Linked DNA regions of Homo sapiens. The protein of the gene in region 1 purifies or fractionates together with the protein of each later gene. This does not show direct contact. Each region holds a gene or a part of one and is shown on either strand. Other genes may lie near its edges. The genes, in order: ZNF277, RNF123 and UBE2T.

What was found.
Region 2: the proteins of ZNF277 (region 1) and RNF123 purify together in Homo sapiens (affinity purification with mass spectrometry; 3 studies listed by BioGRID and IntAct, with this or other methods). This does not show direct contact.
Region 3: the proteins of ZNF277 (region 1) and UBE2T purify together in Homo sapiens (affinity purification with mass spectrometry; 3 studies listed by BioGRID and IntAct, with this or other methods). This does not show direct contact.

The regions. Positions count from the first base shown.
Region 1 is NC_000007.14:112,204,487-112,208,236, reverse strand, and holds the start of ZNF277 (zinc finger protein 277), read right to left. Parts: upstream 1,543-3,750; 5' UTR 1,521-1,542; coding exon 1,430-1,520; intron 1-1,429. Other genes in the region: DOCK4 (dedicator of cytokinesis protein 4), read left to right, coding at 2,735-2,864. UniProt on the Homo sapiens protein: Probable transcription factor. Involved in modulation of cellular senescence; represses transcription of the tumor suppressor gene INK4A/ARF, perhaps acting via the Polycomb group (PcG) complex PRC1.
Region 2 is NC_000003.12:49,692,533-49,696,282, forward strand, and holds part of RNF123 (E3 ubiquitin-protein ligase RNF123), read left to right. Parts: intron 1-3,750. UniProt on the Homo sapiens protein: Catalytic subunit of the KPC complex that acts as E3 ubiquitin-protein ligase. Promotes the ubiquitination and proteasome-mediated degradation of CDKN1B which is the cyclin-dependent kinase inhibitor at the G0-G1 transition of the cell cycle.
Region 3 is NC_000001.11:202,335,242-202,338,991, reverse strand, and holds part of UBE2T (ubiquitin-conjugating enzyme E2 T), read left to right. Parts: intron 1-3,173; 5' UTR 3,174-3,237; coding exon 3,238-3,346; coding exon of another isoform or gene 3,347-3,350; intron 3,351-3,750. UniProt on the Homo sapiens protein: Accepts ubiquitin from the E1 complex and catalyzes its covalent attachment to other proteins. Catalyzes monoubiquitination. Involved in mitomycin-C (MMC)-induced DNA repair.

The DNA.
Region 1 (3,750 bases):
CGCCCGGCTAATTTTTGTATTTTTAGTAGAGACGGGGTTTCACCATATTGGCCAGGCTGGTCTCGAACTCCTGACCTTGTGATCCACTCGCCTCGGCCTCCCAAAGTGCTGGTATTACAGGGGTGAGCCACCGTGCCCGGCCATTTTTTAAAATAAGTTAGACTGTGAGATAAATTCACCAGTTTAGATCTTAAACTGGTAGCCCTCTGGAACTTTGAAAATCTAGGAAACCGTAATAGTCTGTTACCATCAGATAGCCCAATATATAACCAACCCAAAAATAAACCATTAGGGTGTTAAATTCAATATTTAACTCAGGAGACTACCAAAGATTTGTTTGGTAGAGGTACTAAAATAATTTCAGAGTAGGGAGTTCCACTGTTGGGAAGTGGGAAAAAACTGCACTTCAACTCTGTGCCGCTGAGGTAAATACTTAAGATGATATCAATTTAACTGTGAAAGCAAAAACAAATAAATCGAAAAACAAAGTCGCAACAGTCTGAGAACTATATTTAAGCCCCAAACCATGTTCATCAGAAAAAGACAACTTGTGCTAAATTACACATCAAGACAAAAATGGGGTGGGGGGAATGGGGGAGGGATAGACTAAAGGTAAAAGAGTCCTAAACACAATCCACCTGCAGCTTTCAAAATTTGGTTTTTTATTCCTACAGTGGATCAGAGGACAACCTGAAAGTCAGGTACAGCCAAAGTTGTGATGGTTTTCAAAACTCTTTTCAAATGTTCTTTGAAGCCACGAGTGCAAATTATCTATCACTTTCCTTTTCTTTCTCTAAGGACCCAGAGACTGGGAAGATCTCTCAGGCTCCACATACAAATCTGAAGAACACCCAGAGCAGTTAACCATCTACAGGGAGGTTGTGAGATACACACACTTTCCCTTCAGAGGTCACCTCAGCCACAAACTGGGCAAATCTGTAGAGTGGAGAGCAGTGACCACCAGTCTGCGACTGGAAATACTCCGGAAGCTAAATAAAACACACCTGCGAGGTCAAACCAAGCAAACCAAGGCAGTGTACTGGTGAGGAGAAAGAGCTGCTAATCCCAAAATTATAAACACACGCGCGCGAACCAGATCTGAACCAAACCCACTCAGCAGCTAGCTCAAAGCTGGGAGCTCCAAACCAGAAGACAAACGCTCAGGGAGCTTCCCCGGCGGAGGGGAAGGCCATTCCATGGCATTTTCTCCGCCATCCCATGGCATTTTCTCCGCCATCCCCGGGCAGCCCCAACCAAGTAGCCGCCACCGGCTCCAACCCATCCCGCTGGGCCACCACCCGTGGGGCCCAGTCGAACCCAGGTGGCCCCAGAGCTGAAGGGCTCCTAGGGTCAGACCAGAGGTCCGTTGCACACCCGGTCATAGAGAAAGGAAGACACATCAGCCGCGCCTCCGGGGCACCGTACTCACCCCCATAACCTACACCCCCGACTGTGCTGCAGCTCCCATCACGGTCTTCCTGCATTCGGGCGACAGCCCCCTGGGTCTTGGAAGCAGCCATTACCCGGCAGAAAAGAAAAGGGAGGGCCGCAGGGCGGGTCGGAGGCGGGGTGGCACCAGTAGAAACGCTACTGGAGGCGAACTCCCCGTCGACGTAATGTTTTCTCCACACCTACGCCGCGCTCTGGACCAATAGGACGCAATCAGTAAAACTGAATCCCCGCCCCGAACCACATTTGCCGCGCCCACTTCCGGGATGGGGAGGCCAAGAACTACAATTCCCAGCGTGCTGCGGGGCCCTGGGACGGGAGGGCTGGACTAGGCGCTGGCGGGCGGGGGTGCGCCGGAGAGTGCCCCGGCGTGTTCGCTTAGTTCAGTGAATCAGAACAATGACTGCGCCGCCGGGTACCCGGGAGCGCGTCGGAGGACTGTGAGCAGCCGCCGCCGGGAGAGCTGCGGGCGGCGCAGTGTCAACGCTGGGCTCGGGAGCCTCCAGCGCAGATCCTGCCCAGCGCCCGCAGCCCGCGCGAAGCCGCTGGGCTCCGGCACTGCAGCGCTGCTCGGGGACTGTGCATTGTTGTGAGCCGGAGAAGGGGCGCGGGGATTACAAAGCCTGAAGACCCCGGAGCCCCTTTAGCCATGTGGATACCTACGGAGCACGAGAAATACGGCGTGGGTGAGTCTCCGCGGGGCGAACTTTTATTCTGCTCTGGCCCGAGCGAGTGCGCATTTCTCGTCCTTGCCCCCGCGCCCCTCTCGCTCCGCCCGGTTGAAAATGCCTAATCCTGGCATCGCGCAGCTGGTACGGGGCTTTGCCGAGCCAGCTCCAGGCAGAGGGCTGCGCACCAGGCTCTCGCCCCGCACCGCCTGCTCGGCGCGCCCCGCACTGGTTCCCGAAGCGCCGGGACAGCTTGGGGGAGCGCGCGGCCGGCCCGCTAGCTTCGGGCTCTGCCTGCGGAGTTTGGAGTGGCGACTGGGCGTGTGTGTGTGTGTGTGTGTGTGTGTCAAGTTGGAAGAGGAGGCGAATGGGGTTTCTCTCCTTCCTTACCCTTCTTCCCCAAAGCGACAGGGAGCTGCAACGGTTCCTCTGGGTGGAGAGGGAGACAACAACACTCGGGCAGAGAGAACACCCCCAAAACAGTAGGGAGGCGCAAACCCTTCCCTCTGGCTCGGATCGACATTCCCGGAGTGTGGAATGTGGCAGGGTCCTGGAGAGAGCCGCTCTGACAAGCTGAGCCCTCTCTGACCCTCCTCCCTCTCTGCGATCCCGGATTTATGGGGTGTGTATGTTGCGGGGCGGGGGCATTGGTAAATTTCAACATCTGCGCCGCTCGGTTCTTTGGTCTTTGGAGAAGAACGGGTATTTCAGCAGTGTTTTTACTTCTGGCCACCCTCTCGACCCCGGGTGAGCGCAGTGGGGGCGGTGTGGCGGTACAGGGCTGCTGAGTGATAAATGGGGAGGGGGATCGGAAAGCCTGGTTCTTGGGGGCAGGGAGATAGCTTTTAGGAAAGCATACCCTGACACTGGCGTTCGGAGAAAAAGGAACAGGATAGCTCTCGCTGTTCTGTGTAAAGGTGAACAACAAAGGACATTAATGTTGACTGATGAATACAGGAGTCTCCCTTCCTTTTCCTCCTCCCATTTCAGGCGGGTTACAGTTCCCGTTTTTGTTGTTTGATTTCAGCTGGGTCGCCCCTTGACAGTTACTCCTTTTAGGGTTGAGACTATTAAGAAGCCAGGCTCTCCGACAAGGCTGCAGCCGGCCAAATGCAATTATAACCTCCCAGAAGGTCTAACAGAAAGCATTATGGATTTTACTAACACTCTTTATTTCCTATAATGCCCTGTTCTGCCGACTGGTGTACTTTGTGTGTGTGTGTGTGTGTGTGTGTGTTTTAAAATTGAGGACAGGTCTAGTGATTTAGGTGATGTGTAGATATCTGCTTATGTTCTAAATTCATTTTCCTGCAATTTAAAACATCTGGAAAGCCTTCCCAGGGAGTCGTAGTCCGAGGGGATTTTTGTTTTTTTTTTTCCCAACTTTGCCTGGGGATAGGACTTTGGGGTCCATTGAAAGGACTGTAGGATTCAACAAAATCATTCCCACATTTCACGTTAGCTTCCATTCTGGATTGTGACTAATTACCAAGACAATAGTTTGACCTGAACCCACCTTTGGGAAAGGTTTCCAGCTTTCCCTCCTTCAAAGTGTCAGAGGAGTCTTTGCCAGCCTCTTTACTGGCAAGGAGTAGATGTTAGTAGTTGTTATTTTCGTTCTCCTCACTCTTCT
Region 2 (3,750 bases), on another chromosome or scaffold:
TTTACTATAGTCACTCTGTTCTGCTACCAGATAGGTCTCATTAATTCAATTTTTTTGTACGCATTAGCCATCCCCATCTCCCCACAAGCCCTATACTACCCTTCCAAGCCTCTGGTAACCATCCAGTACTTTGCCTCTATGAGTTCAATTGTTTTAATTTTTAGCTGTCACAAATAAGTGATAACATGCAATGTTTGTCTTTTTCTGCCTGGCTTATTTCATTTAACATAATGACCTCCAGTTCCATCCATGTTGTTGCATATTACAGGATCTCATTCTTTTTTATGGCCGAATAGTACTCCGTTGTGTATATGTACCATGTTTTCTTTATTTATTCATCTGTTGATGGACACTTAGATTGCTTCCAAATCTTGGCTATTGTGAACAGTGCTGCAACAAACATGGGAATGCAGATATCTCTTTGATATACTGATTTCCCTTCTTTCAGGTATATACCCAGCAGTGGGGTTGCTGGATCATATGGTAGCTCAATTTTTAGTTTAGTTTTTTTTTTTTTGAAAAATTTTTTTTTTTGAGACGGAGTCTTGCTCTGTTGCCCAGGCTGGAGTGCAGGGGCACAATCTCAGCTCACTGCAAGCTCCGCCTCCCAGGTTCATGCCATTCTTCTGCCTCAGCCTCCCAAGTAGCTGGGACTGCAGGTGCCCGCCACCATGCCCAGCTAATTTTTTGCATTTTTAGTAGAGACGGGGTTTCACCGTGTTAGCCAGGATGGTCTTGATCTCCTGAGCTCGTGATCCGCCCACCTCGGCCTCCCAAAGTGCTGGGATTACAGGCGTGAGCCAGTGTGCCTGGCCTTTTTTTTTTTTTTTTTTTTTTTTTTGAGATGGAGTTTTGCTCTTGTTGCCCAGCCTGGAGTGCAGTGGCATGATCTTGGCTCACTGCAACCTCTGCCTCCCAAGTTCTAGTAATTCTCCTGCCTCAGCCTCCCGAGTAGCTGGGATTACAGGCACAAACCACCACACCCAGTTAATTTTGGTATTTTTAGTAGAGATGGGGTTTCGCCATGTTGGCCAGGCTGGTCTCGAACTCCTAGCCTCAGGTGATCCTCCCACCTCGACGTCCCAAAGTGCTGAGATTACAGGCATGAGCCACCGCACCTGACCAATTTTTAGTTTTTTGAGGAACCTCCAAACTGTTCTCGATAGTGATTGCACTATTATAATTTACATTCCCACTAACAGCATACAGGGGTTCCACAACCTCGCCAGCATTTGTTATTGCCTGTCTTTTGGATAAAAGCCATTTTAGCTGGTGTGAGATGATATCTCGTAGTTTTGATTTGCATTTCTCTGATGACCAGTGACGTTGAATGCCTTTCCATATGCCTGTTTACCATTCGTATGTCTTCTTTTGAGAAATGTCTGTTCGTATCTTTTGCCCATCTTTTGATGGAATTATTAGTTTTTTTCCTATAGAGTTGTTTGCGTTCTTTGTATATTCTGGTTATTAATCCCTTGTCAGATGGGTAGTTTACAAATATTTTCTCCCATTTGTGGGCTGTCTCTTCACTTTGTTGATCGTTTACTTTGCTATGCAGAAGCTTTTTAACTTCATGTCTGTTTATCTTATAATGTATGTAGTTCAGATTATGCTGTATAGAAAACTTTAAAAAAATTTATCACCTTCAGTTCTTTTCTTAAAACGTTTTTATTGAGCTATGATTAATATACAATAAACTACACATACTTAAAGTGTACAATTTGATAAGTGTTAACATATATATAAAACCCGTGAAACCATCACTACCATCAAGGTAATGGACATGTCCCTCACTTCCAAAAGTCTATAGAAGTTTGCATCCTATTTTTATCATCAAATGTTATCCCGTGAGTATTTTTCCCCATTATCAATTTATCTTACTGAGCATCTTTAGGGCCAGGGGGTCTGCTGTGGCCCATACCAGTGCCCTAGTTTGGAAGGACTTTTGCTTTTGTAAACAATGCTGTGAGGATGCCCAGGGCTGGAGTCGTGTGGCTAGAGTGTTTGAACTGCAGTCACTTTTAAGACTGTTGCCAGATTACTTCTTCAAAGGATCAAGTAGGTTCTCCCTCCCTGCAGTGAGGCACGGTTGTCCCTGTCTCTCACCCCCTCATCAGCCTTAGCTGTTCTGTCTTTTACGACTTCTGCCCTTTAGGCAGGTCCAAAAGGCAGCAACGTTACCTGTTCTATTTAAGCAACTGTGGTGGTCAGAAAGTGCCTGCTTGCAGAGAGTTCCTGCCCACCCCCACCCCATACTCAGTCCTGGCCTGTTCTCAGAGCCATCTGATCCCTACCTCATGTGATACCAGAGATGGTCCTACTGCTGCTGCTGCTGCTGTGGCCGCCAGGAGAGACAGCAGGTGGTAGGGCTGTCAGTCAGTGGTTGTGGGTATTCAGGGCCCTGAACTGGGACCTAGGAGATCCAAAAAGGTCAGGGAAGTTGCTGGTCTTGGCCAAATGGGCAGTGCTGTAGGCACTCAGTGGTGGCTGTCTCAGGCCGACTGCCCACAGATATGTGCAGTCTGCTCTCAGGATCAGGCACACGACTTTTGGGGTCAGGTACAAGAGTAGCTGCTCCAAGTGTGGGCTTGTTAAGAACTGTTTTCTTTTGAGACAGGGTCTCGCTATGTCACAGTCATAGCTCACTGCAACCTCAAAGTCCCAGGCTCAAGGAATCCTCCCACCTCAGCCTCCCACATAGCTGGGACCACAAGCACATGCCACAGCACCCAGCTAATTTTTTTTTTTTAAGAGACAGGGTCTTACTGTGTCACCCAGGCTGGTCTCAAACCCCTGGGCTCAAGTGATTCTCCCACCTCAGCCTCCCAAAGTGCTGAGACTACAGGTGTGAGCCACCATGCTTGGCCTGTAACTGCTTTTGAGGAAGGCTCCTTTATCCTTGGGCCCACTGGGGTATTCAGAGATGGGGTTGGCTTTAGCCTTCTATGCTACTAGCTGAGCACCCCGACTGCATAGCCACCACCTGGCCTTGGCCTGGGACAGAGCAGCAGTGGGGAGGGGCCTTTGTGCATCTCTGCTCCTACAGCTCAGGGCTGGGAGTGGCTTACACTGGGGAATATGTGATCCCTGAGCCTGGGTAGTGGCTACTTTGTCAGGGTGCTTGTCCAACCTTTGTCCCCTTCCAGAGCTTTCTGTCTGTGTGGATGAGTGGGGTAAGAACTGGCATTAAAGGTGGAAGAGCAGGTGGTGGCACCCTGTGGGCAGCCAGGTGTGTAATGGGCCTCTGTTCTGCCTGAGTCCTGCTGGTTACCACCACCTCACTCCCTGCTATTCTTAGCAGCTGAGCTCAGGACAGCACTGACTGGCATTAGACAGTACCCTTTTCCCTCTAGGCCTGTGTGTTGAGAGGATGAGGGGGCCACCCAGACAGATTTTTCCCAACTCCTTTGGCTCGGGTAGGTGGGTCATGTGCTCCGCTGACCATTTATGGACTGGCGGGTACAGGACAGAGCCATCCAGCAGCTCAGAGGGCTGAGCCTTTCATACTTCCAGAACATGTCCCATTCAACACAGACTCCCCTGGCTGGGTGGTGGCGAGACTGGAATCTGCCCCAAAGGAACCACAGGCCTAGGGGCAAGGGTTGGACTAGGTGGCCTTGGTACTGACCACTTTGGGAACCAGCATTTCTCCCAGCCTTCTTCTTCCAGACATCATCAGCACAGCCACCTTTGAGAGCGGACAGGTTATGTGCTATGCAGACAGCACTTGTTATTCCCTGGGCTCTTCAC
Region 3 (3,750 bases), on another chromosome or scaffold:
CAGTCTTACTGATTAGCATAGTGTTAAAAGCTTTCCCTTTAAGGTTAGAAATCTGACAAGAATGCCAACTATCAGCTTTTCTTTCTTTCTTTTTTCTTTTTTTTTTTTGGCTGTTGTTTAGACAGGGTCTCACTCTGCCTCCCAGGCTGGAGTGCAGTGGCACAATCATGGCTCACTACAGCCTCAGTCTCCCCGGGCTCAGGTCATCCTCCCACCTTAGCCTCCTGAGTAGCTGGGATTACAGGCTCATGCCAGCATGCTTGGCCCAGCTATCAGCTTTTTCATTTAACATTGTACTAGAAGTTACTGTCAGAATAGAAGGCAGGAAAAGAATTAGAAGGGAAGAAATAAACTTGATTATATGTGGATGACATGATTGGCAGTGTGGAATTACCATTCCCAGACTGCTCCCCACCCCAAATAGATTCATCATTAGCATTACTAAGGCTTTGGTTAAAAATCAGTTAGATTGGCTGGGCGAGGTGGCTCATGCCTGTAATCCCAGCACTTTGAGAGGCTGAGATGGGTGGATTACCTGAGGTCCGTGGTTCGAGACCAGCCTCACTAACATGGAGAAACCCTGTCTTTACTAAAAAAATACAATATTACCTGGGCCTAATGGTGCATGCCTGTAACGCCAGCTACTCAGGAGGCTGAGACAGGAGAATCGCTTGAACCCAGGAGGTGGAGATTGCGGTGAGCCAAGAGCACACCATTGCACTCCAGCCTGGGCAACAAGAGCAAAACTCCATCTCAAAAAAATAAAAAAAAATCAATTAGATTTACATGTATCAGTAAGAAATGGGTAGAAAATAGTGTTTTTGAAAAGATAGCAAAAATATAAATACTTAGAAATCAGTCTAACAAAAATTAGATAAAGCTTTATAGAGAAAATTATAAAACCTTTGGAAAGCATCAAAAAAAAGACTGAAACAGCGTGTTCATGGATCTTAGGATTCAATATCATAAAGATATCAGTTATCTCCAAATTGATCTATAGCATCAATAAAATTACAATCCAAACCACAGAACCCTGTTATGATTTGGATTATAATTTCAGATATACATATTTATGTATATATTTATGGACTTATGAACTGATTCTCAAATTTATATGGAAGAGCAAAGAGTCAAGAATAATCAAGTCATTCCTGAAGAAAAAGACCAGGTGGATAAGCTATAGTAAAACATCACATTGTACACCTTAAATATATACAATTTGTATTTGCCAGTTATACCTCAGTAAAGCTGGGAAAAAATTTAAATAATAAAAAATGAATAAGCTATAGTAATTCAAACAGTGGAGTATTGTCTCAGAAATAATCCACTTGACCAGTGGAACAAATTCAAGAGTCCCAAAACAAATCCACACATATAGAAATTTAATTTATAGTAATATCAGCAGGGAAAGGATGGACTGATTCAGTAAATGATGTTAGAACAATTGACTATTCATATGGGGAAAAACTTTAAATTGGACCCCCACCTCACTCACTATACATAAAATTCAATTCCTAGTGGATTCAATATTTAAATTTGAATAGCAAAATTATAAAATATTTGAAGGCTATGTAGGAATATCTCTACATTTGGGGGTAAGGAAAAATTTAATACACAAAGTATAAATGTAAAGAAAGAGATTTTAAGATTGATTATGTTAAGAGTATGTGTTTATTGAAAGACACCATGTACAACATGGAAAGATAAGCACAAACTGGGGGATATTTGTAACACATTAAAGGATTGGTGTTGGCTGGGCGCGGTGGCTCACGCCTGTAATCCTAGCACTTTGGGAGGCTGAGGTGGGTGGATCACGAGGTCAGGAGTTCAAGACCAGCCTGGCCAAGATGGTGAAACCCCATCTCTACTAAAAATACAAAAAGTAGCCGGGCGTGGTGGCGGGCGTCTGTAATGCCAGCTGCTCGGGAGGCTGAGGCAGAGAATTGCTTGAACCCGGAAGGCTGAGGTTGCAGTGAGCCGAGATCGCACCACTGCACTCCAGCCTGGGCAACAGACCGAGACTCCGTCTAAAAAACAAAAGGGATTAGTGTCCTTTGCTTGGTTAGTAAAGAGAGAACTAGAGTTGAGAAGAGTGTTGGGTGAATATGTGTGTAGGTGTTGGTTTTAGGTGAGAGAGACTTTGAGCATATTTGAACATTGAGGGTAAGAAAGATGGAATAATTGATGGAATGGTATCCCTGAAGATTGGGAGAAGGTGGAATCCATAGCACATGGAGAGAAACTCGGACATTTAACATTTGTTTGTACCTGAGAATGTTGACTATCTCTACCATTCTTGCTCTCACAAAGCATATGTAGACTTCCTCACAACAGCAAATATTTGTCAAATCCCTTACTATGACAGGCATGCTAAGGCTACAATAGTAAGCAAAATCAGACCCAGGCCTGGCCTCATGAGTTTATAATTTATCAGTGGAAACACCCATTATTTAAAACCTTTAGTGTTTTTATTTTTTGTAGAACTTTTTGCATTTTTAGTTCTTTATTTTAAAAATATATTTGCTTGTATAGATAAACGTTCACAAGAAGGGAGTGGAAAAACTCAGATTCCCTTGTCAGAATAGAGATTAATAAGAGGAATCTTGGACTGGCGTGGTGGCACACACCTGTACTTCCAGCTACATAGGCGGCTGAGATGGGAGGATCACTTAAGCCCAGCAGGTGGAGATTGCAGTGAGCTGAGATTGTGCCACTGCACTCCAGCCTGGGTGACAGAGCAAGACCCTGCCTCTAAAAAAAAAAAAAAAAAAAAAAAAAAAAGCTGGGTGCATTGGCTCACGCCTGTAATCCCAGCACTTTGGGAGGCCAAGGCAGGCGGATCACCTGAGGTCAGGCATTTGAGACCAGCCTGGCCAACATGGCGAAACCCTGTCTCTACTAAAAATACTAAAATGAGCTGGGCATGGTGGTGCACGCCTGTAATCCCAGCTACTCTGGAGGCTGAGGCATGAGAATTGCTCAAACCCAGAAGGTGGAAATTGCAGTGAGCTGAGATGGTGTCACTGCCCTCCAGTCTGGGTGACAGAGTGAAACTGTGTCTCAAAACAAAAAAGAGGACTCTGTCCCCCACCCTCACTACATTGAAGCTGTTTGCTGAAAACTTCATAGTCATTATTGCTGATGATTTTATGGTCACCTCTTTTCTCCTCCAGTGCATCCCAGGCAGCTCTTAGTGTGGAGCAGTGAACTGTGTGTGGTTCCTTCTACTTGGGGATCATGCAGAGAGCTTCACGTCTGAAGAGAGAGCTGCACATGTTAGCCACAGAGCCACCCCCAGGCATCACATGTTGGCAAGATAAAGACCAAATGGATGACCTGCGAGCTCGTAGGTATCAAATCATGTATATGATGAAAGTCATGACCCTATTGAAGATTGTGCTGAAATAAAACATTTTGTGTATTCTTCTAAAGTAAGGAGCAGTTATAAGGTCAGAGTGCCCTACCATCTTTCTACCCAAATTTGTTTACATTTATAAAAGGTTTGCTTGACATTTCTTGCTTCTTTGACTTTTTATTATACCTTATGCTGATTTATAGCCAAGATTTAAAGCAGTGAAGCAGTGTTTAGATCAAAGATAACCATCTCAAATATCTGTGAGGCCAGATGGGAAACATACATGATTAGAATACTGCGGTCCAAACAAAACAAATCTATAGGTTGTATTTGGTCTTGTGGCCAGCATTTTGCAACTTCTGCTTTAGATTTTCTATATGTCCTTTGTTTGACAC